Homo sapiens: one gene and its partners. The protein of the gene in region 1 purifies or fractionates together with the protein of each later gene. This does not show direct contact. Each region holds a gene or a part of one and is shown on either strand. Other genes may lie near its edges.

Region 1 (5,028 bases):
TTTATATAAGGGGCAACAATGAGTACAGCCTACTGTATTGGTCCTTAAAGGAAAGGGATATATCTGTCCCCATTGTTTGTTTTATGCAGTCATAATACTACATACAAATCTATTCAGTGGTAATACTACATACAAAGGATGAAGGGCCTAGAACAGTATTGGATCACTTCAGTTAGCTGAGTTACAGCCTGGGTCTAGAAGACCTTTGGAGAAGCATACTGCTTCTGCTAATGCTAGTTTTTGGATTGCCAGGTCAACTTAAAATGTTAACTGTTTATGTTAAAGAATCTATTATCCTAGCCTTCTCTAATTTGCAGGTCTGATTTAGGTAACTCCCCCAATTGAGAGATGCCAGTACTATCTCCAAGAGCACTTTCCAGGTAACCTTTGTTTACCATGAGCCAAAGTGTGAAGTGGCTATTGCAAGAATGGCCAACTCACCAAGGATAAAAGCTAGAATTCAGTAGGCACTGATAAATGGTCACAGAAAATCTTTACCAAAATTTAAATTACAAAGAACAGAACTGACAGTTTTATAACTGATGTTTTAAATTTAAGTCATTTATTTTACAAACAGAGACTACCTATTATACTTAAGACATTGTGTTAGATCTTTGCCAAAGACATGGTTTAGTCATACTAATGTAATCCATTTTTTAACTTTCCATATTAATTTAATTTTTAATTCATTTTTCTTTATGCTTGCTTCAGGGGCTACATCTGGGACTGAATAGCAGCATATGGCCCAAGGGCTGTGGTTTTGCCACTCATGCTCTATACTCTAGTCTCTTCCAGAGTTGAGTATAGCAGTCACTATCTTAATACAGTGTGTCACTATTTTATTACCTGCAGAGAAACAGATTAACTTCCTTTATTTAATACTGATAAATAGAAAGGCTTTTTCAAGAAAAAAAAAGAAAGCTTACATTTACAAAAGTGATTTATGCTAATATGTGCCATTAACAAAGACAAATACTGAAATCCACACAAAATCAGAATTAACTTCTACAACTAAAAAAAAATTACAGGGTAATAAAACTGTAGGAAAAGCTGTATGTAAAAAGAAAAAAAGACAAGTCCCTATGTAGCTAATTACAAGAGAATATTGTAAATACATTCAAAAAGTTTTCCAAAAATCCTGCAGCCTCATCTAGAAACTGATACATGTTAAGATTCTTGATCTATACCAAATTATAATGTTAAAGGAAATCATGAAAACTGAGGTATATATTTGATGCATTAGAAACTATCATTTGAACACTATTTAAATAGTTTAATTATAAGGTCTAATTTCAAGTTAAAGTCTGTAAACGGAGATTAGTTTGGATTATATGACACAGGAGACAATAAAACATGTTCTCAAAGACATGCCAATACATTTTCTTGAAACAAAACCTCAGCAAATGAGAATTTTCATACTGTGCATGGGAATAACTAAAACCTTTATTAGATATGATTTTCCATTAACAATAATGTGAAAATTAGAATTATGAATTCAAAAAGCAGTGAAGTCTGAAAATTTAAAAAGTAGACTAGGTATTAGGGGATTAAAGGTAAAGGAAGACGAGAATGTTTCTTTAATACTATTCATTATTTCCCCTCTGTACACAATGTTGCATATATACAACTACTTCATTTTTATTGACTTTATATAATAGTGAAATCCCTTTAAGCAACCTAGGGTATACAGTTGGTGTCCAACTTTCAGGGGATTTTCGGGGGGGAGTAGAAACACTTGATTAACAGTTTTCACCCACACACGTTAGACAATTTTTTTCTTTTTTTGCCAAGATTTTAGTAGTAAATTCATAAATATAGGAAATACTTTCACTCCTTCAGTGTTAAAATAGAAAACCAAACAGTGCCAACAGTAGTGGCTTAATTATTGGTATACAAGAAAAACACAACAACAATGGGTTTTCTTAATTACGCATTTTAAATATCAATATGTGCATTTGTTTTTACAGTTATAAATTTTTTTCTCACCTGTTTTAGACAACAGCTTGTAATAGTTTTGAATCCATTAAGATGTTGCTTTCAATTTGAAATATTTTGTGTATACATGTATATAAAAAATAACCCAATGTATGACTCATCTGACCGATGTTTAAGATCAATAACGGCTTATTTTTCAACATGCAGTTAGGAAGAGAGGGAAGCAAGCCAACCTCTCTACAGTATCTTTTTGCTGGCTTGTTTTTGTAGTGGTATCAATAGTGGTTTTTGGAGGGAACCATGTGCCTTCAGCCTATCTAGTCAAGATCAGATACCACGATCAACAAGAGCGGTAGAAGAGATGGGGAAAGGGGAGTGGGTAAGTGTTAAATATCAATTTTGTAAAGTGTGCATTTTGTACTCCTTCTAGGCACAGGATTAAAAACAGGCCAATGAGGAAAAATTTGTTATAATTAGGAAAAAACTGCAATCAAATCAAGACATAATAGCCGAATTAAGTTCTTTTAATAGATTGCATATATAGATGTTTAGCCATACTCTTAGATCAACTCTTTAAGAGCAGAACTTTATATCCAATTTACATGCTCTAGATACCACCTTTTTTATTTTTTACAGTAAGGTCTGGTATTCAAATACCCACTTGTACACTGACAGCTTTAAGAAAAACAGGACACAGAGGGAGTTGTCATTTTTAGCAGCAATGAAATACCACTAACCCCTTTTTACATACCGAATTCAAGTCACTATCAGAGGTGAGTGCACCACAAAGTCACCAGGTACAAAATTGCTAGTTCATTTTTAAATTAATAACTTGAAATTACCCCTGCCCCCCACCCCATTACATCTTTTTATAAACAGCAAACATTTTGCTATTTTATACATAGGCTAGCAGGCTTGTTTCAATATGAAAGTGCTAATTCATTTACAGATTTTTATAATCAGTTATGTAGTGCTACAATAAATGTCCAATAATCTACATAGGAACAATGATGAAAATGATGAAGACTGAATAAGGCTATCAGATGACCTTATCTTATTTACATATAAAGAATAGATACCCAATGGTGAGGAAGAGACAGAAATTGGACAAATACTCATAGGTGTAAAAATTACATCTACCTTTGAGTTTTATACTGTAAATGAGACATTTTAAATAGTCCTGTAGCCCATGCCTATTTTTTCCTCAGAAAAAGAAAAGCTGCCTTCATGACATCCCCTCGTTTCAGATTTCCACAGTGTCACTTTGAAGCTTCAGAGTCAGGATCTTACTTTCTTCAAAAAATAAAGAAAATACTCCCTCTAAGGTACCTCCCATCCCCCCCCACCCCCAAAATCCCGCTGATTTCTTTTCCAGTGCCAGGTTGCATGATCAGGTCCCATCTCCTGGGGTTGTTGTTTCTTTTGTCCATCTATTGATTATTAGTTTAGAATAGATAACATGAACCAGTTCTGGAACCACTACTAGGAGGAACACAAGCTCTTCACTACAAGCACACAGCAGGAAAGAAAGAGATAACTCAATTCATCCCTGGTGCTGGGCCTCCAAAATTGAAAGAACTTGGCACAACTGGAGCACTGAATTTGTATCCTCCATGCTTCTCAATCATTTTGGATTCTAGAAAACAAATAAAATTTTAGTAGGGCATTCAATCATCTACTAACTTGGTGAGAAACTGACAAAACATTAAACAAGCCAGTAGCTTAACCATCATTAGTGGCCAGGAAGTTCCAAAATCCATGATTTCTCCAATGTATAAGGGCAAGGGAGCATGCATTATGTAGAGAATATAATCTCTTTTACTGTATGCTGTAGACTTCTTAGCCAATTTTCACTTCCCACTGTTAAGAAAAAAATCTTTTTTTTTTTTTTTTTTTGAGACAGAGTCTGGCTCTGTCACCCAGGCTGGAGTGCAGCGGCACGATCTTGGCTCACTGCAATCTCTGCCTCCCAGGTGCAAGCGATTCTCTCCTGCCTTAGCCTCCCAAGTAGCTGGGACTACAAGTGCGTGCCACCACGCCCGGGTAATTTTTTGTATTTTTAGTAGAGGCAGGGTTTCACCATGTTGGCCAGGTTGGTCTAGAACTCCCGACCTCAAGTGATCCATCCGCCTCAGGAGTCAGGAGTTTTTGAGACCAGCCTGGCCAACATAGTGAAACCTCGTCTCTACTAAAAATACAAAAATTAGTTGGGTGTGGTGGTGCGTGCCTGCAATCTCAGCTACTCGGAAGCTGAGGCACGAGAATCACTTGAAATCGGGAGATGGAGGTGGCAGTGAGCCGAGATTGCACCACTGCACTCCAGCCTGGGTGACAGTGTCACTCAAACAAATAAATAAAATAATTTTTTTAATTTATAAAAAAAAGTCTATAGATAATTGTTTGCATTAACAATGGTGTATAACCTAAAATGTACTTTTGTTTATTTTTTTTTTTAGAGACAGAGTTTCACTCTGTCACCCAGGCTGGAGTGCAGTGGCGCAATGTTGGCTCACTGCAACCTCTGCCTCCCAGGTTCGAGCGATTCTCCTGCCTCTGCTTCCCAAGTAGCTGGGACTACAGGTGTGCACCACCATGTCCAGCTAATTTTTGTGTTTTTTAGTAAAGACAGGGTTTCACTGTATGTTGGCCAGGCTGCTCTCAAACTCCTGACCTCAAGTAATCCGCCAGCCTCAGCCTCCCAAAGTGCTGGGATTATAGGCGTGAGCCACCGCGCCTGGCTTAAAATGTACTTTTAAAAATTGCACACTGAAACATTTAAAGATGAAAAGATATGTCTGGGAGCTATTTAACTTCGTAAGTTTTTACATTTTTGGAGACGGGGTCTCACTCTGGCACCCAGGCTAGAGTACAGTGGCACAATAATGGCTCACTATAACCTACACCTCCCACATTCAAGTGATCCTCCAGCCTCAGCCTCCCAAGTAGCTGGGACTACAGGCATGCACCACCATGCCTGGCTAATTTTATTTTTTGTAGAGATGATGTCTCACTATGTTGCCCAGGCTGGACTTCAACTTCCAAACTCAAGCAACCCTCCTGTCTTGGCCTCCCAAAGTGCTGGGATTACAGGCA
Region 2 (7,684 bases), on another chromosome or scaffold:
TGAATGATCAAATTTTGAGGCTGCCACACTTGTTCCTGGCAGGGATCTTATCTACCTGGTTCATTTGCTGCATACCTGATGCCTAAGAACATACCAGGCACAGAATAGATGCTCAATTAATATTTGTTAAACTAAAGGATGAACAAATAAAACTTATTTGTGTTTTCCCTTTTTTTTTTTTTTTTTTTTGAGACCGAGTCTTGCTCTGTCGCCCAGGCTGGAGTGCGGTGGCGCGATCTCGGCTCACTGCAACCTCCCCTCCCGGTTCACGCCATTCTCCTGCCTCAGCCTCCTGAGTAGCTGGGACTACAGGCGTCCGCCACGACACCCAGCTAATTTTTTGTATTTTCAGTAGAGACGGGGTTTCACCGTGTTAGCCAGGATGGTCTCGATCTCCTGACCTCGTGATCCGCCCACCTCAGCCTCCCAAAGGGCTGGGATTACAGGCGTGAGCCACCGTGCCCGGCCTATTCATGTTTTTCATCTTGGTTTTTATATGTGCCAAAAATAAACAGTCTGAGTTTACTTGTGGTTTACATGGTCCTCTTATGAACATCAGCTTGCTTAAACTTAATGTTACAACAATAACAAATATTTGCTTTTTGTCAAGGGAAATGCTTAAATTAAATCGGTTGTTTATTTTGAGACAGAGTCTCAGTCTGGAGTACAGTGGCATGACCAGGGATCACTGTAGCCTCGACCTCCTGGGCTCAAGCGATCTCCTCCCACCTCAGCCACCTGAGTAGCTGGGACTTCAGGTATGCGCCACCACAGCCGGATAGTTTTTGTATTTTCTGTAGAGACAGGGTTGCCCAAGCTGGTCTCTAACTCCTGGATTCAAGCGATCCTCCTCTTTGGCCTCCCAAAGTGTTAGGATTACAGGTGTGAGCCACCATGCACGGCTTTAAATTATTTGAATGCAAGCAATAAAAAAAAGTATTGTAGAAATAAAAAGCCCCAAATTTCAGTTTTAATTTATTTCCTCTACATTAAGAGAAGGCTGTAGAAAAGTGAGGAGTTTAACAACGTATTTCAGTTTACTGATATCCTTGATAATATGCATTTTAGGGAAAGCACTATAATTTCACATTTTACCATAAAATATATGTAATACATGTCATTAGTGATGCGCTGAACACCTCACATTGTTCCCAATCTTAAGTCATTCACTACACTCAGATTTAACGAGTCATGTCACAAAAAGCATGCCTGTAATTTGACTGCTGACACCACTTGTTTTTCATTTTCAAATGTAAGTTATATAAGCAAACATATACTCAGTGTCTGTTTTGGGCATAGATACTAAGGACACTACAGTGTCTCATCTCAATAAAATCACAATCTAACTGGGTAAGGAGTTAAAACTTTCATCCGGAAATGAAGAGTTCAGTATACGTTCTCCACTAACTTCCAGCCCTACAATCTTCCAAGCAAGCTTAAAAACAAAGCCAAAACCAACCAACCCAGCAAACTTTAAAATGTTACTTCTATTTTGAAACAAATTACACTAAACTTTTGAGAAGAGCAATGAAAAATCAAAAAGCTAACAAGTTTTTTGCCTATGTCAGGTTAAACAAAATTAGAGCACCTTTCAAAAATGACACTAGTCACCTCTAATTTCACTCTAAGACAAGACAGCGTGCTCAAAAAGCCCCAGGCGATTTTTAGACGTTATTTCGAATTGGATTCTCACTTTTTAATGCAATGCAAAGTCAGGAAGCACAATAAACAACAGAGAGAACGTGCACGCGGATGCGGCAGCACAGTTCACCCGGTCCGGTCTCCGTACGGGAGACAACTCTTTCTCAAAAAGGTTAAGTGGCTGTCCCCGGTCACAGCTGTTAATGCAGTACCAACCCTCAGATCTGGGGCTCTCACCTCACCACTCCTGCCTCCATCTCTTACAAACGCTCAGATGGGCGACTGTAACTTTCTGACGACCTACCGAGGCACCGCTCTCATTCAAACCCCACCGCCTAAGGTGGCGAGTAACCAGTTCTACGTTTCCCACCGGGGGAGCGAGACTCAAGGCCGCCGTCGCGGAGCAGCAAAGCGACAGCCGACAGCCCCGCCCGCAGAAGGCCGCGGGAAGGACGGCAAGAGCAGCGGAGACAAAGCAGCGAGGCGAGGTAGCTACAGGCCACAGCGGCGAACGCGCACGGCGGGGGAGAGCGCGGGCCGCCAGCGAGGCGGGGAAAGCTCGGACCGCGGACACCGACGGATGAGGCTGGGGCTCGGCGCGGTGACAGTTCGGGGCTCACGCTCGGCAGGGACACCGCGGCGCCCGCCCCGGCGACGGAAGCAGCGGCGGAACGCGAGCCTCGGCGCTCCGCACACTCACCACTGGGAGCTCCGTAATGGCGGCGGCGGGGGCGGAGAACCCGGGGGGCGGGCCCGCCGCAGCCAGTCACCGCCGCCGGCATCTTTCGAACCGGCTCCGAAAACCGCTGAGGGAGTGGGGTGAGGGGAGGGCGCGGGCGGACGCCGGACCGCGGCGGGCCTCGGAGCATGCGCAGCCCTCAGCCAATCGGGGCGGGCAGAGGACGCCGACGCAGGCGCGCTGGGACGCAGGGTCGCACGGCCAGAGAAGAGCTCCCCCTCCTCCCCCAAATCCAAACAAAACAAGGGCGGGAGCGCGCGCGCCGGAGGGCCCCTGAGGAGGAGTCCACCAAAAGGGCAGGGGGCTAGGTCGCAGGAGAGAGGAAGGGAGCGGGGCGGAGCGGCCGGGTAAGGCAGACAAAAGGCGCCACCTCCGGGGACCCGGGCGCCCCGCCCCCTCCTCTCTGGGAGCGGCGTCGGCGCCCCGGGCGAGCGGCCTCCGCCACTCGCCTTCGGGGCCCAGCGAGCCCGCGCCCACTCCCCGGCCGCCTGTTCGGTCCTGCGTTACCTCTGCGTTCGGCCGGTCCTGGCGCCCGCGTCCCGCACGGCCTCTCGGCGCCGCTCCCGCCGCCGCTAGTCGCCTCCGCCACCGCTGTCCTCCAGTCCCAGCCGCCGAGCTCTGCCGCCCCGCCCCCCTACCCGCGGCCCCGCGCGCGCCCCCGCCGGCCCCGCCTCCCGCGCGTGGGGTGCGAGGGGGCGCGCGGGGACGGGCGGACGCCGGCGGAGCGCGGGGCGTCGGCGCGCGTTCCCGGCGCTGCGTGGTGGCGCCCATTGCCTTGGCGTGGCGGGGCGGTGTCGGTTTCCTCGGAGGGGCGCCGCTTTCCCCCGCTAACCTTCGCTTTCTGTGCTCTCCAGGGCAGTCCCTTCTCTTAACTGGGTTTCCGCTTCTGCCACTCGTCCGCCTTTAGCGGGGCTAGCCTTTCCCGCTTCTCAGTTTAGGCGCAGCTCAAGAGCAAACCTTTTTTTGAAGACCGTAGAATTGGAAAACTAGAGAGCGGAGAATTCACTGCCTCGCACTCGCTCCCATTAAGTCTCCAGACGGTACAGGGCAGAGTAGTGACTCGGGACTCAGAACTGAAAAGTTGAAACGGGCTTTCCGGGCTCCCTAATCCTCACATGCAGGGAGAGTTCCCCAGAATGAAAACCCTGAGATTAGAAGACGGGATTCCCTTTGAATTGTCATATTGCGTTGCTATCAGCGTACTTAAACAACGTACATACGAAGGAAAAGTACAGCTCTTCAAAGCTAGTTTGGAAAGATTGTTTTTAAAGTTTCAGGTGTTGGGGGACAGGGGAGGGACTGGGTAATAAATGTAAGGAAATACCAGTAGAATTGTCCCAAGCTTACAGTAGATGACCAGTACTCAAACGTATGTGCCAAGGTTTATAAAGACTTACGACACCATTTAAGCACTCACCCAGTCGTCTGGCCCTGCCATTAGCATAATTGTCTCACCAGCTTTCCCTGCCACAGCCACCCCACTCTATCAGTTCAAATTTCACAGCCAGCATAAAAAATTCTTTACGAGGTGTGCGTTATCATTCATATCCTGATGGCATTACCAGTCTTTAGTACTCTGGTGTCATATTCCAGCTGTTCAGAAGGGGTTTTGCTCTTTTATGCCATTCTTCATTCTGCTCACTCCCTTCGTTGTTAACGTTTCTGTTGTCTTCCTTTTCAAAGACTTCCATTTTTATGTATTCGTACATTTAAAACATCCTACCGTTCTTCTTTTACCCTAAAATGTCTTTAGACCCATCTCATGTAAGAAGCAGACTCAGATGAGAGCAAACTGGGAGATGTTTCCTCCTCCACAGATTTTTGCTTAAAACAACAACAACAAAACTTAGGCCGAGCATGGTGGTTTACGCCTGTAGTCCCTGCACTTTGGGAGGCCGAGGTGGGAGGATTGCATGAGGCTTGGGGCCAGGAGTTCGAGGCCAGCCAGGGCAACATAATTAGACCCCATCTCTAAATAAATAAATAAGCCAGGAATGGTGGCAAAGGCCTTTAGTCCCAGCTACTCGGGAGGCTGAGGCAGGAGGATCGCTGAAGCCGAGGATTTGAGGCAACAGTGAGCTATGATCACCACTGCGCTCCACCCAGAGAGAGCAAGACCCTGTCTCAAAACAATCTTGGTGGGGTACGGTAGCTCATGCCTGTAATCCCAGCACTCTGGGAAGCCTAGGTTCCCAAAAGGAGGATCTCTTTAGCCCAGGAGGTTTAAGACCACCCTGGAGCAACATGGAGAAACCCCCTTTCTATATATGATAAAAATATTAGGCCGGGCGCGGTGGCTCAAGCTTGTAATCCCAGCATTTTGGGAGGCCGAGGTGGGCGGATCACGAGGTCAGGAGATCAAGACCGTCCTGACTAACACGGTGAAACCCCGTCTCTACTAAAAATACAAAAAATTAGCTGAGCATGGTTGCACGAGCCTGTAGTCCCAGCTACTCGCGGGAGGCTGAGGAAGGAGAATCACTTGAACCCAGGAGAGGGAGGTTGCAGTGAGCTGAGATCGCGCCACTGCACTCCAGCCTGGGTGACAGGCTCCATATCAAAAAAAAAAAAAAAAATTAGCTGGGCGTGGTGACACACGCCTGTGGTCACCTACATGGGAGGCTGAGATGGGAGGGTCACTTAAGCACAGGTGGTCGAGGCTGTAGTGAGCCGTGATGATGACACTGCACTCCAGCGTGGGCAACAAGGTGTTTCAAAAATCAATCAGGCCGGGTGTCGTGGCTCATGCCTGTAATCCCAGCACTTTGGGAGGCCTAGGTCAGGAGTTCGAGACCAGCCTGGCCAACATGGTGAAACCCTGTCCCTACTAAAAATACAAAAATTAGCCGGGCGTGTGGCACGTGCCTGCAATCCCAGCTATTCGAGAGGCTGAGGGCAGGAGAACCCCTTGAACCCAGGAGGCGGAGGCTGCAGCGAGCCAAGATTGCACCACTGCACTCTAGCCTGTCCGACAGAGCAAGTCCCTGTCTAAAAAAAAAAAAAAAAAAAAAAAAAAATCAAGGCTGGGCGTAGTGGCTCACACCTGTAATCCCAGCATTTTGGGAGGCACAGGCAGGGGAATCACGTGAGGTCAGGAGTTCAAGGCCATCCTGGCCAACATGATGAAACACCGTCTCTACAAAAATACAAAATTTAGCTGGGCATGGTGGTGGGTGCCTGTAATCCCAGCTACTCAGGAGGCTGAGGGGGGAGAATCCCTTGAGCCTGGGAGGCGGAGACTGCAGTGAGCAGAGATCGTGCCGTTGCACTCCAGCCTGGGTGACAGAGCAAGACTCTGTCTCAAAAACAAACAAACAAAAAACAACAACAAAAAATCAATCTTACTTTGTTGTTCACCACATGAACACCAAAGGAGGAAAAATCCTGAAACACATTTTTTTCCACAAGAGAGTGCACACACACACACACGGGCAGGCATTAAGGCTACCACTTACTGAAGACTGAAGTTGAAAGTTTTCTACTCAGGAATCTGAAATTTTTATTGTACATGTCTATTAGTTAAAGCACTTTACCTTTGCTCAATGTAATATTTAATATCTGGCCAGTTTTGATTTTTGTATGTACCTGCCTCTGAATCAAAAGATTCCATAGGGGTATAGTTTTATAGTTTATTTCACTTGGCTTTATTTAAGCTATACTAGTCACAGATCATTGAAGTGTGTTATGTAATAGGTTTTGTTTTGTTTTGAGATGGAGTCTCTCTCTGTCACCCAGGCTGGAGTGCACTGGCGGGATCTCGGCTCACTGCAACCTCCACCTCCTGGGTTCAAGTGATTCTTATGCCGCAGCCTTCCAAGTAGCTGGGATTACCGATGTGCATCACCATGCCTGGCTAATTTTTGTATTTTTAGTAGAGACGGGGTTTCACCATGTTGGCCAGGCTGGTCTTGAACTCCTGACCTCAGGTGATCTGCCCGCCTCAGCCTCCCAAAGTGCTGGCATTACAGGCGTGAGCCATCACACCCAGCCAACAATTACATGATGATTTTTGTACCATTTACCTAAAGGTAAACAAACTGCATTGGTGGAAAGACCCACCTTGACAAGTTTAGAAGAGCAGCTCAGCTCTTATGGGGTGTATTAGAGAAGGCTGCCATCAAAGACTGAGCTTCCAGGCACTGGGAAGACCCTCTCACTCAGAGACCTCCCACACTCATCAAAGTCCCTGAAGTTCTGCCACTCAGAGATTCATTCCTTTGGTTTAATCTTCACTCTCTTCTACAGCACCTAGAATTTTTTTTTTAGAGATGGGGTCTTGCTGTACTGCCCAGGATGGACTCAAACTCCTGGGCTCAAGCAGTTCTCCTGCTTCAGTCTCCAAAGCAGCTGTGACTATAGGCACACCACCTCTCCCAGCCATTCTTCTATAGCACTTTTAAAGTGATAATTGAGATTTCCTACTTTAAACCTCTTTCCGGATGGATCGGAAGATAAGAACCCCGGAGGTCTGACTAGGGTAGGAACTTCTGGGGAGAGAAAGGAGTAAATGAGGGGCTGTCTGTGATGACTTCACAGTTCTGCCCAAGGCTATCCATTCTCAGGGAGTCCTTGCCTAGGGAGTCCCAGAAAGATGAGGAAACCTAGTGGTTTGTGAACTAGGAGTGCAAGCGTTAAGAAGTCCTCACAATCTAACTGTATCATCTCTAATTTTCAACACCCACTTTTTCAGAGGCCAAGTCCCTGTTGAAACTTTAGCATAAAGCTAGCTTTGCAGACTTTACAGCCTGTTGTGAAGGTAATAGATTGGTTGCTTTTTGTTTTTTTCCTGTTCCTCAAATTTTATTTATTTATTTATTTTTGAGACAAGAATCTCGCTCTGTCGCCCAGACTGGAATGCAGTGGCATGATTTGGGCTCACTGCAACCTCCGCCTCCCGGGTTCAAGCGATTCTCCTGCCTCAGCCTCCCGAGTAGCTGGGTGCCCACCACCATGCCTGCCTAATTTTTGTATTTTTAGTAGAGATGGGGTTTCACCATGTTGGCCAGGCTGGTCTCCAACTCCTAACCTCAGATGATCCACCCGCCTGGCCTCCTAAAATGCTGGGATTGCAGGCATGAGCCACTGCGCACAAAGCAACTGCAGATTCAGATTCTAAGAATATTCCAGACCAGAGCTATGACATCACAGTCACTGGGCTGAGCATCGAAAGATATATCTACCTATTTTACTTACATACCACCTTGTGTTAACAAGGACAGGTTTGAAGAATTTTTCCCCCCATGGGGGTTTTCTGGTAAAAATCAGAAAACGAATTCTAAAAGCGCTGTTAACAGTCAAATAAAT
Region 3 (3,718 bases), on another chromosome or scaffold:
AAAAAATTAGCCGGGCGTGGTGGCGGGCGCCTGTAGTCCCAGCTACTCGGGAGACTGAGGCAGGAACCTGGGAGGCAGAGCTTACAGTGAGCCGAGATCACGCCACTGCACTCCAGCCTGGGCGACAGAGTGAGACTCCGTCTCAAAAAAAAAAAAAAGTGGTATCGTGTATATAACTTTCTGAGTACATCTGCCTAGGTTCCAGTGTAATGGACTCCAAATCAGCAGATTTGGGGTGAGGCCCAAGCACCTGCATTGTTTCCAAGGCTCTGCAGGTGATTCAGAAGAAGACCCAGATTCAGAGCACTGCTCTTGCATGACTCATCTGCCTAAACACAGGGCATGTGGGTATCTCTCCAGATACCAATGCCCAGCAGCCCAGGGCACCTACATATCCAGATAGACATAAATTCCTCACTCCTAAGAAAACCAGGCTTACAAGGCGTCAAGGCCCTATAAAGAGGAAAAACCCAGGACGGTCCTTAGAGGCTTCCTTCAGCATGAAAACCAAGTTAAAGCCAGAGCTCATCCTGGGTTGCAGCAAGTCATGGTTGGGCCCAGATTCCCTGCTTGGACCCTCGTGACACAGGGTTACCTGTCAGTTGACTCATGGCTATACACGACTGCCACCAGGGCCTTTGCTCACCGTTATTAAGTTGGCCAGGCAAGGTGGCTCACGCCTGTAATCCCAGTACTCTGGGAGGCCAAGGCGGGTGGATCACGATGTCAGGAGTTGAAGACATGGAGAAACCCCATCTCTACTAAAAATACAAAATTAGCCGGGCGTGGTGGCACATACCTGTAATCCCAGCTACTCGGGAGGCTGAGGCAGCAGAATCACTTGAACCCGGGAGGCGGAGGTTGTGGCGAGCTGAAATTGCACCATTGCACTACAGCCTGGGCAACAAGAGCAAAACTCCGTCTCAAAAAAGAAAAAAGAAATCAAAGTCAAAGGTCAAGCTCAAAATCACATAGTTTAGTGAAAGGAATAGAACTAGAACCAGGATCTACTGAGTTAGCCATTATGCTCTACTTTCAGAGGATTAGACAAACCAAAAAAAAAAAAGAAAAAGCCCAAGATTATATTAACTTATCTTGGTTTTTTTTTTTTTTTTTTTTTTTTTTTGAGATGGAGTCTCGCTCTGATGCCCAGGCTAGAGTGTGGTGGTGCGATCTTGGCTCACTGCAACCTCTGCCTCCCAGGTTCAAGTGATACTGCTGCCTCAGCCTCCCGAGTAGCTGGGATTACAGGTTCCCGCCCCCGCGTGCAGCTAATTTTTGTATTTTTAGTAGAGACGGGGTTTTACCATCTTGGCCAAGCTGGTCTCAAACTGCTGATCTCAGGTGATCCACCCACCTTGGCCTCCCAAAGTGCTGGGATTACAGGCGTGAGCTACCACACCTGGTCAACTTTGATTTCTAGGTGTAGACATTTCTCATTTAAAACAAATTTTTTTTTTTTTCTTAGAGACAGGGTCTTACTTTTTGTCACCCAGACTGGAGTACAATGGCATGATCATAGCTTACTTTGGCCTTGAACTCCTGGGCACAAGGGATCCTCCCACCTTGGCCTCCCAAAATGCTGGGATTATAGGTGTGAGCCACTGCATCTGGCCTAAAGCAAACTGTAAAATAACAAGAGTTGGATTCAATCAGCAAGGTGTCTCCTGACTCCAATTCCATGCATGATTTTATTATTTATTTTTGTTTGTTTGTTTTGAGACAGTCTCATTCTGTCGCCCAGTCTGGAGTGCAGTGGCGTGATCTCGGCTCACTGCAACCTCCGCCTCCCGGGTTCAAGGGATTCTCCTGCCTCAGCCTCCCCAGTAGCTGTGATTATAGGCATGCACCACCACACCTGGCTACCTTTTTTGTATTTTTAGTAGAGACGGGGTTTCACCATTTTGGCCAGGCTGGTCTCGAACTCCTGACCTCAAGTGATCTGCCTGCCTTGGCCTCCTAACGTGCTGGGATTTCAGGCATGAGCCATCGCGCCCCGGCCTCCATGCATGATTTTAGAGTGCTGAGTTAACAAAAGGAAAATACCAGTTTCTAACCCTTTAACACAACAATGACGAACAGGTGTTAGAAACACTAGGCAGAGCACAGTGCCCTCTAAGAGTCTGTTTTACACAAGTATGCTGGATGTCATTGCTTGGAAGTTTGGGTGTTAGTCCAACAATAGTTGCTTTAAAGTATCTGTTTTGGAGCCTCCCTAGAGCTTAATGTGTGACCTATCCCTCTCAGGGAAGAGCAACGGAAGAAACGCGAGCAAGAACGAAAGGAGAAGAAAGCAAAGGTTTTGGGAATGCGAAGGGGCCTCATTTTGGCTGAAGATTAATAATTTTTTAACATCTTGTAAATATTCCTGTATTCTCAACTTTTTTCCTTTTGTAAATTTTTTTTTTTTGCTGTCATCCCCACTTTAGTCACGAGATCTTTTTCTGCTAACTGTTCATAGTCTGTGTAGTGTCCATGGGTTCTTCATGTGCTATGATCTCTGAAAAGACGTTATCACCTTAAAGCTCAAATTCTTTGGGATGGTTTTTACTTAAGTCCATTAACAATTCAGGTTTCTAACGAGACCCATCCTAAAATTCTGTTTCTAGATTTTTAATGTCAAGTTCCCAAGTTCCCCCTGCTGGTTCTAATATTAACAGAACTGCAGTCTTCTGCTAGCCAATAGCATTTACCTGATGGCAGCTAGTTATGCAAGCTTCAGGAGAATTTGAACAATAACAAGAATAGGGTAAGCTGGGATAGAAAGGCCACCTCTTCACTCTCTATAGAATATAGTAACCTTTATGAAACGGGGCCATATAGTTTGGTTATGACATCAATATTTTACCTAGGTGAAATTGTTTAGGCTTATGTACCTTCGTTCAAATATCCTCATGTAATTGCCATCTGTCACTCACTATATTCACAAAAATAAAACTCTACAACTCATTCTAACATTGCTTACTTAAAAGCTACATAGCCCTATCGAAATGCGAGGATTAATGCTTTAATGCTTTTAGAGACAGGGTCTCACTGTGTTGCCCAGGCTGGTCTCAAACTCCACCAAATGTACTTCTTATTCATTTTATGGAAAAGACTAGGCTTTGCTTAGTATCATGTCCATGTTTCCTTCACCTCAGTGGAGCTTCTGAGTTTTATACTGCTCAAGATCGTCATAAATAAAATTTTTTCTCATTGTCATAGATTCATTCTTTGTAAACATAAGTCTTCCAAGATTTAGGTGAGCAGCTAGGCTTAACAAGAGTTTATACATACCCTTGGTATGCCCTTTCCTGACCACTGCTTCCATTCAAAAAAGAAACGGCAGTATGCTTCCTTTATATTCCCAGAGTACCTCTCAGGTTTTATTAAATGCTGTTTTGTATATACGAGGCTTTAGGACATGGCACACTTCCGGGTACTGGAAACATTCAGATTTTCCTATCAAGGGGAAGAGATCAGATCAATTTTAAAAATTCAGGGTCAAATACACATCTGATGGAAATGTAAAATGTCACAACCACTTTGGAAAACAGTTTGCTAGTTTCTTTGAAAAGTTAACAGTATGTCTACCGTGTAATCTAGCCATGCCATTAGGTAGTGAGACCCTATCTGAAAAAAGAAAAAACCACCAGGATCTTACATAGAGAAAATCCTAAGGATTTCACTAAAAAGCTCCTAGAACTAATAAATTCAGTAAGGTTGCAACGTACAAGAT
Region 4 (7,052 bases), on another chromosome or scaffold:
CGAGTGACAAACCACAGTCTTCTCAAGAGCACTCTGGTTTCAAACACACCTGGTATGTACGAGGCCTCGTGATGAGCTCCCGACATGCCCACAGCCCCCACTGGACTCTCAGACCCCACTGCTCACCTTGGCCGCTCAGGATGCCGGGAGGTGAAGATCATCACCCCCTTTCACAGTTGGGGAACAGGCTCAGGGAACGCCATGAGCTGGCCAGGCCCCCGCAGTGCCAGGGGGAATGCTGGTTGGGTCCTAAGCCTTTCTTTCCTTCCCAGAGTTCTGCCCTCGAAATCCTCCAGTCCCACCTCAGCCCCGTGAGGCAGACCCGTTGTCTACTTCCCAAAGCCAACGGGAACCTTCACCAGGGGGCCATCTGCGGCCAACATGGCCCAGCTCCCAGGCTGGCTGCGACTCAGGCTCAGGGCACCCCCCTCCCCTAGCAAAAGCAGGGCGGGAGGGAAAGGGATCCTCCACCTGACCTGCGAGAGCAGCTTAATGTTTCCATATAAAGGAGATACAGGGCTTAAGGTGCTTCAACTTCGTGTCAAAGTCACTGTCTAATCTGAGGCCAAGAAGCCCCGCCCCCAGGCCCCACCCTCACCCTCCCAAATCAACACTCTCACTCTTCCGAAACCAGGGGTGTTCCCCACCACTCCCCACCTACTGGTGGGGGCTGGACAGCAGGTTGGAAAGCAGAGACTACAGAAAGACAAAGAGATGCAGAGATAGGCAGGAGGAGGGGTGTTGAGAGGGTGCCCCAAGAAAAAGTACAGGGACCAAGCAGGACAGGGACCCTGAGAGAGAGGGGGACAGAGACCCAGAGAGGGCAGCAGGAAAGGGACATTGATCCAGAGAGAAAGGGACAGAGACCTTGAGAGAGGACAGAGACCCAGAGAGAGGGGAACAGAGACCTTGAGAGGATAGAGACTCAGAGACAGAGGGGGACAGAGACCCAGAGAGAGGGGGGGACAGAGACCTAGATGGAGGGGGACAGAGAAGATAGAGGCGGACAGGGCAATTGGGAAAACGAAAAGGAGAAAAGAAATGTTTTAAGAAATGGCGACATGGGGAGATGAAATTGTGAAGACAGAGAGAGGCAGAGAGAGATGGGAGAGACAGAGATGGGGGAGAGAGACAGAGACAGAGACAGACAGACTGAGAGGGTTTCTCTGAAAGGATGGAAGCCAGTGAGAAAATGCATAAAATGGGGATGGGGTGAGAGTTGGAGGCACTGAACCTGGGGGTGGATTCTCCTGGCGCTGAGCCTGTCACTGATGGGAAGACAAGGCCTTCTTGAAGGGGACAAGCTGAGGACAGGGATGCTGGGGCAGGGGTGGATGGGGGCGACGCAGCAGAGCAGGAGGGGATGGCTCAGCGGTGCCTTGCATGGAGGCACGTACCTGTTGGGGCGGCCCACCCCCATGCCCTCCGCTGGGGGCTCCTCGGCTAGGGCTGAGGGGAAGCCTCTGTGGGTGCTGAGGGGCTGTAGTCTGTCCTTGGTCCCAGGGGCCGTGTGACGGGCACCCGACCTCGGAGTCCACAGATGGATCAGAGGCTGGATGGAGGGGGGCCGGGGGTGGGGCTAGCTCAGAGCCGCAGAGGGGGAGCCAGGGAGGCCAGCCAGGCAGAGCGGCTGGGCCACAGCCCAGGCAGGCTGGACAGGAGACAGCGGCGGAGGAGCGAGACAGCGACTAGGGGGCAGGGAGACTGGCAGTGGGGGACGGGAGACTCTGAAAGAGGGGGACACAGAGAAGAAAGAAAGAAACGTGATAAAGGGGAGATGGACGGAGGGAGAAATGGGGGGTCCAGAGTTCCCTGAGATGAAGCCTTCATAAGCTGGTGGGGGTCAGGGATGAGGCCCCTTTCACTAAGCCAGAGTGAGTTCCAGATGGAAGGACACTTAGAGAAGGCAGAACGCGGCGGCACCCAGTGGGCGGAAGGTTGGGTTGCACTGGACTCCCAGTGGCCTCCCCCAGCCTAGCGGCCTGGGGGCAGCTGGTGCCAAATTCCTCCCCACCCCCAAACTCCCCCCACACCCCGTTTCCTCATAGGGCTGTGGCCAAAGGACCAGAGTCTCAAATACACCTCAGGCCTCTTCCTGGTCCTTTATTGCTGCTCAGGAGCCCTGACCTTCCTCCCGACACAGCACCAGCCTCTAAAGTCAGGGAGGAGGGGAGAGGGTCGCATGTAGCCCCCACACGGAGAAATCCTGGCCAAACCCAGCTGGCAGGAAGACAACGGGCAGAAGCAAATTGTGTTGGAGGAACCCACACCTCCAATTTGGTGCAGCCACTGTATATCCCCCGAGTCCCCTGCTGGGAACCAGCAGCCAAAACTGGGTCCTGAGCCGGACGCGGTGGCTCACGCCTGTAATCCCAACCCAGCACTCTGGGAGGCCGGGGCGGACAGATCACTTGAGATCAAGAATTTGAGACCAGCCTGGCCAACATGGTGAAACCCCGTCTCTACTAAAAATACAAAAATTAACGGGGTGTGGTGGCACATGCCTGTAATCCCAGCTACCTGGGAGACTGAGCTGAGAGAATCACTTTAACCCAGGAGGCGGAGGTTGCAGTGAGCCAAGATCGTGCTACTGCACTCCAGCCTGGGCGACAGACCAAGACTCCGTCTCAAACAAACAAACAAAAAACTGGGTTCTGGGGACACAGGTCAAATGGGTCACAGCTGACAGGAAGGAATCCGACACACAGGCCACACCAGGCCACACAAGTCTCTGGGTGGGAGTGGTCTTACAGAGCCCTGGTTAAACCGAGTTCTTTGGTGAGAGGGGTCACTGGATCAGAGCCAGGCCTTCTAGAGAACAATACGTCAAACAGAATCCATCACGGCAGCCCACAGGCCGGCCAGTCTCAGTCAACAGACCTGAATGAACCCCTTCCAGGGGAGCCCAATTCGACTTCAGTTTCCAAGCAGGAAGCAAGATCAGAGCCAGTGGGACGCCTCAGACGCTGATGGTGCGGAAGATGGTGAAGCCTGACAGCGCCGTGCTGACCAGGAGCCCTGGGCACTGCGGGTGCCAGTGCAGCTCCTTCAGCTCGGTCTCGCCCTGGTGCACGAACAGCAGCTGCTGCGGGAGGTCGGCCAGTCCGGGGTCGGCCTCCACGTCGCCCGCCTCAGGGTCCCGCTCCACTGCCAGGTCCCACTGTGTGATCTGGTGGTCTGCACCCGAGGCTGCAAAGACCCCGCTGTCCTGGGGGTGCCACTCGACGGAGGTCACGGGGGCCACGTGCTGCTTGAAGGTGGCCACTGGGGAACCAGACTAGAGGGAGAGGATGGGAGGAACGGGCTCTGAATGCCTCAGCCTGACTCTGGGGAGGACCCAGGCAGAAGCCCCAACCCTTCTCCAGCCTCAGGGTTCAGCCAGGGCCCCACCCCTTAAGCCCTCACAAGCCCAGAGTCCAGGAAAGGGACACAGGGTAATTCTGGCTGCTAAGAAGGCTGACCAGCCCAGGGGTTGCTGGGAACTGTGATTCACCTGCAAAGAAGCCCCTCCCAGCTCAGGTAGCAAAACCCCCGCCCCTGCTCTTCCCTCTGCCTGCCTGTTTTCTTCCTTGTAAAAGGAGGGCATGGGCTGGGTGCGGTGGCTCACGACTGTAATCTCAGCACCTTGGGAGGCCAAGGCGGGTGGATCACCCGAGGTCAGGAGTTGGAGACCAGCCTGAACAACATGGTGAAACCCCATCTCTACTAAAAATACAAAATTAGCCGGGCTGGTGTCACATGCCTGTAATCCCAGTTACTCAGGAGGCTGAGGCAGGAGAATCGCTTGAACCCAGGAGCGGGAGGTTGCAGTGAGCCGAGATTGCGCCACTGCACTCCAGCCTGGGAAACAAGAGCAAAACTCCATCGCAAAAAAAAAGAAAAAAAAAAAAAAAAAGAAAAAAAGGAGGGCATGGCTCTCCCAGAGCTCTCCCAGCAGATTCTACAAAGGCCTCAAAGGAGGCAGAAACACAATCCCCGGAAGCCGACCCAAAGAAAGACTAAGAATGACAGCACTTTCACTACAGCAAAGGCCCCGCTCAATTGGCGTCTCTCTCATTAGGAGAGGCTGCTCTGAAGTTCCAATGGTCAACAAGCTGGGCCCTGTGTGACCTGGTGGGCCTGGGAGGCTGGAATCCGTCTCCAGCCTCCTCCCCAGGGCTGACGCTATAGAAACGATCAAACTGGAGGAGAAAAAGGATGACATCATGGCAGCCCGGGAAGGCAGAGCCACACAAAGCTGCGGCTTTGTCCAGAGGGATGCCGGACGCTGCAACTTCTCCTGCACAGGGACCCTCCCAGCTCCACAATGTCAACCTCTAGCTTGGCTGTCATGTCACAGCGGCTCCTGTCCTTTCTGTGCCTCAGTCTTCTCCTACAACGAGCAGGCTGGGCCCCGATTCTCAGTTGCATCTAGAAATCTACAACTCTCTGAAGCTCTCAGCACTGGCCGTACAGACACCTGTACTTCTGCCCACAGGCAGATGAGAGTCCTAGTCTCTGCTGCCCCAGCCCCTTCCATCTCTTGTCAGCTGTTCCCCTGGTAGAGTGAGTGACCCCAAGAGTGGAGACCCGCCACCCTTCCTCTTGCTGAGCCTCAGTTTCCTCCTCTGTACCCTGAAGAGGCAGGAGTCTAGTTCTAAGGGCTCTCCAGCTCTGGTTGTGTAAAACTATTCAAGGAGGAAAAATCCTACAAATCCCAGGGGCTGCTGGGAGCAAGCTTCTCTAGCCCCCAGGTGTCCGGCTGGGAAAATACCTTGAACTGCCGAAGGTCCCAGATCTTGAGGGCCCCATCATCCCCGCCACTGAGCAGGAAGGGCTCCCGGCGGCTCCAGCTGATGACATTGACGTCCCCATCATGGGCGGTGGCTGTGGTGAGCATGCAGGCCTTGCTGGGGGCTGCCCGGATGTCCCAGATGCGGATGGAGGCGTCAGCTGAGCAGGAGGCAAACACCTGGGGGAGGCGGAGTCTGAGTGGTCCCAATGCCCCCCAGCCCGCAGTGAAGCCCAAGCGCCAGCGGTGGGCTACTCTCTCTTTCACTGTTCCCCTTACTATGACTTGGCCTGGAAACTAAACCTCCGTCAGGCTCCCAGCCCTCTTTTCCCTCAGACCTAGGATTCTAGGTCCCTGGCCTAGAATCCATCAGAACTAAACGACCAGAACCCCACCCTCCCTCACCGTGTTCTCAGTCGGTGACCACTGCAGGTCCTCCACAGAGCGTGTGTGGCCCACGAATGGCCGCTGGTCCACGTGCCAGGAGCCGCCGTCCGTAGGTGTCCAGAGGTGGATGTTCTTTTGACAGTCACCGGTCAGCAGGCGACCTGGGGAAGGGAGTCAGGAAATGACCTCGCCCCACCTGGCCGCAGCTCGCTCCCCTCCTTGGAGTCTAAGCGCCCGGCCCCTTGTTGCAGACCCTGCTCCCCCGACCTCCCGGGACTCCTGAACACCCCAGGGACTCACCGGTCACCCGGGGGGACCAGTCAAGGGCAAAGCCCTCGCCCATGTGTCCAGCGAAGGAGAAGATGGGCTTCATTTGGGCCTGCTCATCCCGGAGGAAGGCTGCCAGGGCCTGGGGCTCCTCCACCACCTGCAGAAGCCGCCGCAGCGCAAACACCTCCACCTGGCCCTTCTCTGACCACACCCCAGCCACAGGCTCTTCACCCAGCCATGACACCTGCAGAAGAGCGGTGGGGGAAGGGTGATGTGAAGCGAGGGGAGAGGAGGATCAAGGCACTGACCCCACGCTCCCCATATCCCAGAGAACCAGAAGTGCGCTTCCTCAGATCTCCCAGGCCTGGGACTACAGCTCCTTGAAACCTCTGTGGGAAGAAAATCACAACCTGCAAAAACCAGCATGGTAACTGGGACAGCTCTCCACAGGGGGTGGGAGTGGGTGGGGGAGCTGAGGTGGGAGGATAGAGCCCCAGGATGCCTGGGAGTTGAGGCTGCAATTCCCACCAGCCCTTGGGAGGGTGTTCAGGCTCCTGGTCTCGGTAACCCTCTAAATGCTAGAAGGCCACAAGACTCAGTCCTCGGATCTCCTTGCCTCTGTGTTTGTTCACTAGGAGACCCAGTCCAGCCACGAGGTTTCCAATACCCCTAGCCCTGACCTCTCCCCTGGGCTCCAGACTCTTACTGCATTGACCGTTCAAACTTTTTTGTTTTTGAGACAGGGTCCCGCTCTGTTGCCCAGGACGGAGTGCAGTGATGCCATAATGGCTCACTGCAGCCTCAACCTCCTGGGCTCAAGTGATCCTCTCACCTCAGCCTCCCAAGTAGTTGGGACTATGGGTAAGCACCATCACATCTGGCTTTTAAAATTTTTTTGTAGAGACAGGGTCTCACTTTATTGCCCAGGCTGGTCTGGAACTCCTGGTCTCAAGCGATCCTTCTGCATCAGCTTTCCAAAGTGCTGGGATTACAGGCATCAGCCACTGTGCCAGCCTGACCATTCAAACTTGATACAACCAAAGCCAAGCTCCTAATTGCCACCTGCAACTGCTCTCTCTCCACCTCAGGCCCCAAAATTCAGAACTCATTCTTGGTCCTCATGCCCAGCACCTATGCTGACTACAGTAAAAATGCTCACTTCCAGGGCCAGGCGCGGTGGCTCGCACCTGTAATCCCAGCACTTTGGGAGGCCGAGGAGGGCAGACTGCCTGAGGTCAGGAGCGAGACCACCCTGGCCAACATGATGAAACCCCGCCTCTACTAAAAATGCAAAAATTAGTCGGGCGTGCTGGTGGGTGGCTGTAATCCCAGCTACTTAGGAGGCTGAGGCAGGAGAATCGCTTGAACCCAGGAGTCAGAGGTTGCAGTGAGCCGAGATCGCACCATTGCGCTCCGGCCTGGGCGACAAAAGCGAGACTCTGTCTCATCTAAAAAAAAAAGCTCACTTCCAACCCCCTTCTCATGATGTCTATTGCTGTCACACTACTACTGATGTCATCCTTCCCCTGAATACCGTAAGTCTCCCCACAGGATTCTTTCCTCCGACCCTTACCTCTCTGCAATTGATATTTAAGGACAGCAGCCAGAGGGACCACTTTAAAAC

What was found.
Region 2: the proteins of IPO7 (region 1) and HP1BP3 purify together in Homo sapiens (affinity purification with mass spectrometry; 3 studies listed by BioGRID and IntAct, with this or other methods). This does not show direct contact.
Region 3: the proteins of IPO7 (region 1) and NUSAP1 purify together in Homo sapiens (affinity purification with mass spectrometry; 2 studies listed by BioGRID and IntAct, with this or other methods). This does not show direct contact.
Region 4: the proteins of IPO7 (region 1) and GRWD1 purify together in Homo sapiens (affinity purification with mass spectrometry; 2 studies listed by BioGRID and IntAct, with this or other methods). This does not show direct contact.

The regions. Positions count from the first base shown.
Region 1 is NC_000011.10:9,443,640-9,448,667, reverse strand, and holds the end of IPO7 (importin-7), read right to left. Parts: intron 3,572-5,028; coding exon 3,474-3,571; 3' UTR 541-3,473; downstream 1-540. UniProt on the Homo sapiens protein: Functions in nuclear protein import, either by acting as autonomous nuclear transport receptor or as an adapter-like protein in association with the importin-beta subunit KPNB1.
Region 2 is NC_000001.11:20,784,308-20,791,991, forward strand, and holds the start of HP1BP3 (heterochromatin protein 1-binding protein 3), read right to left. Parts: upstream 3,001-7,684; 5' UTR 2,888-3,000; intron 2,366-2,887; exon of another isoform or gene 1,879-2,365; intron 1-1,878. UniProt on the Homo sapiens protein: Component of heterochromatin that maintains heterochromatin integrity during G1/S progression and regulates the duration of G1 phase to critically influence cell proliferative capacity.
Region 3 is NC_000015.10:41,377,846-41,381,563, forward strand, and holds the end of NUSAP1 (nucleolar and spindle-associated protein 1), read left to right. Parts: intron 1-2,247; coding exon 2,248-2,341; 3' UTR 2,342-3,201; downstream 3,202-3,718. UniProt on the Homo sapiens protein: Microtubule-associated protein with the capacity to bundle and stabilize microtubules. May associate with chromosomes and promote the organization of mitotic spindle microtubules around them.
Region 4 is NC_000019.10:48,448,933-48,455,984, reverse strand, and holds part of GRWD1 (glutamate-rich WD repeat-containing protein 1), read right to left. Parts: intron 5,673-7,052; coding exon 5,459-5,672; intron 5,320-5,458; coding exon 5,177-5,319; intron 4,952-5,176; coding exon 4,754-4,951; intron 3,278-4,753; coding exon 2,960-3,277; 3' UTR 1-2,959. UniProt on the Homo sapiens protein: Histone binding-protein that regulates chromatin dynamics and minichromosome maintenance (MCM) loading at replication origins, possibly by promoting chromatin openness.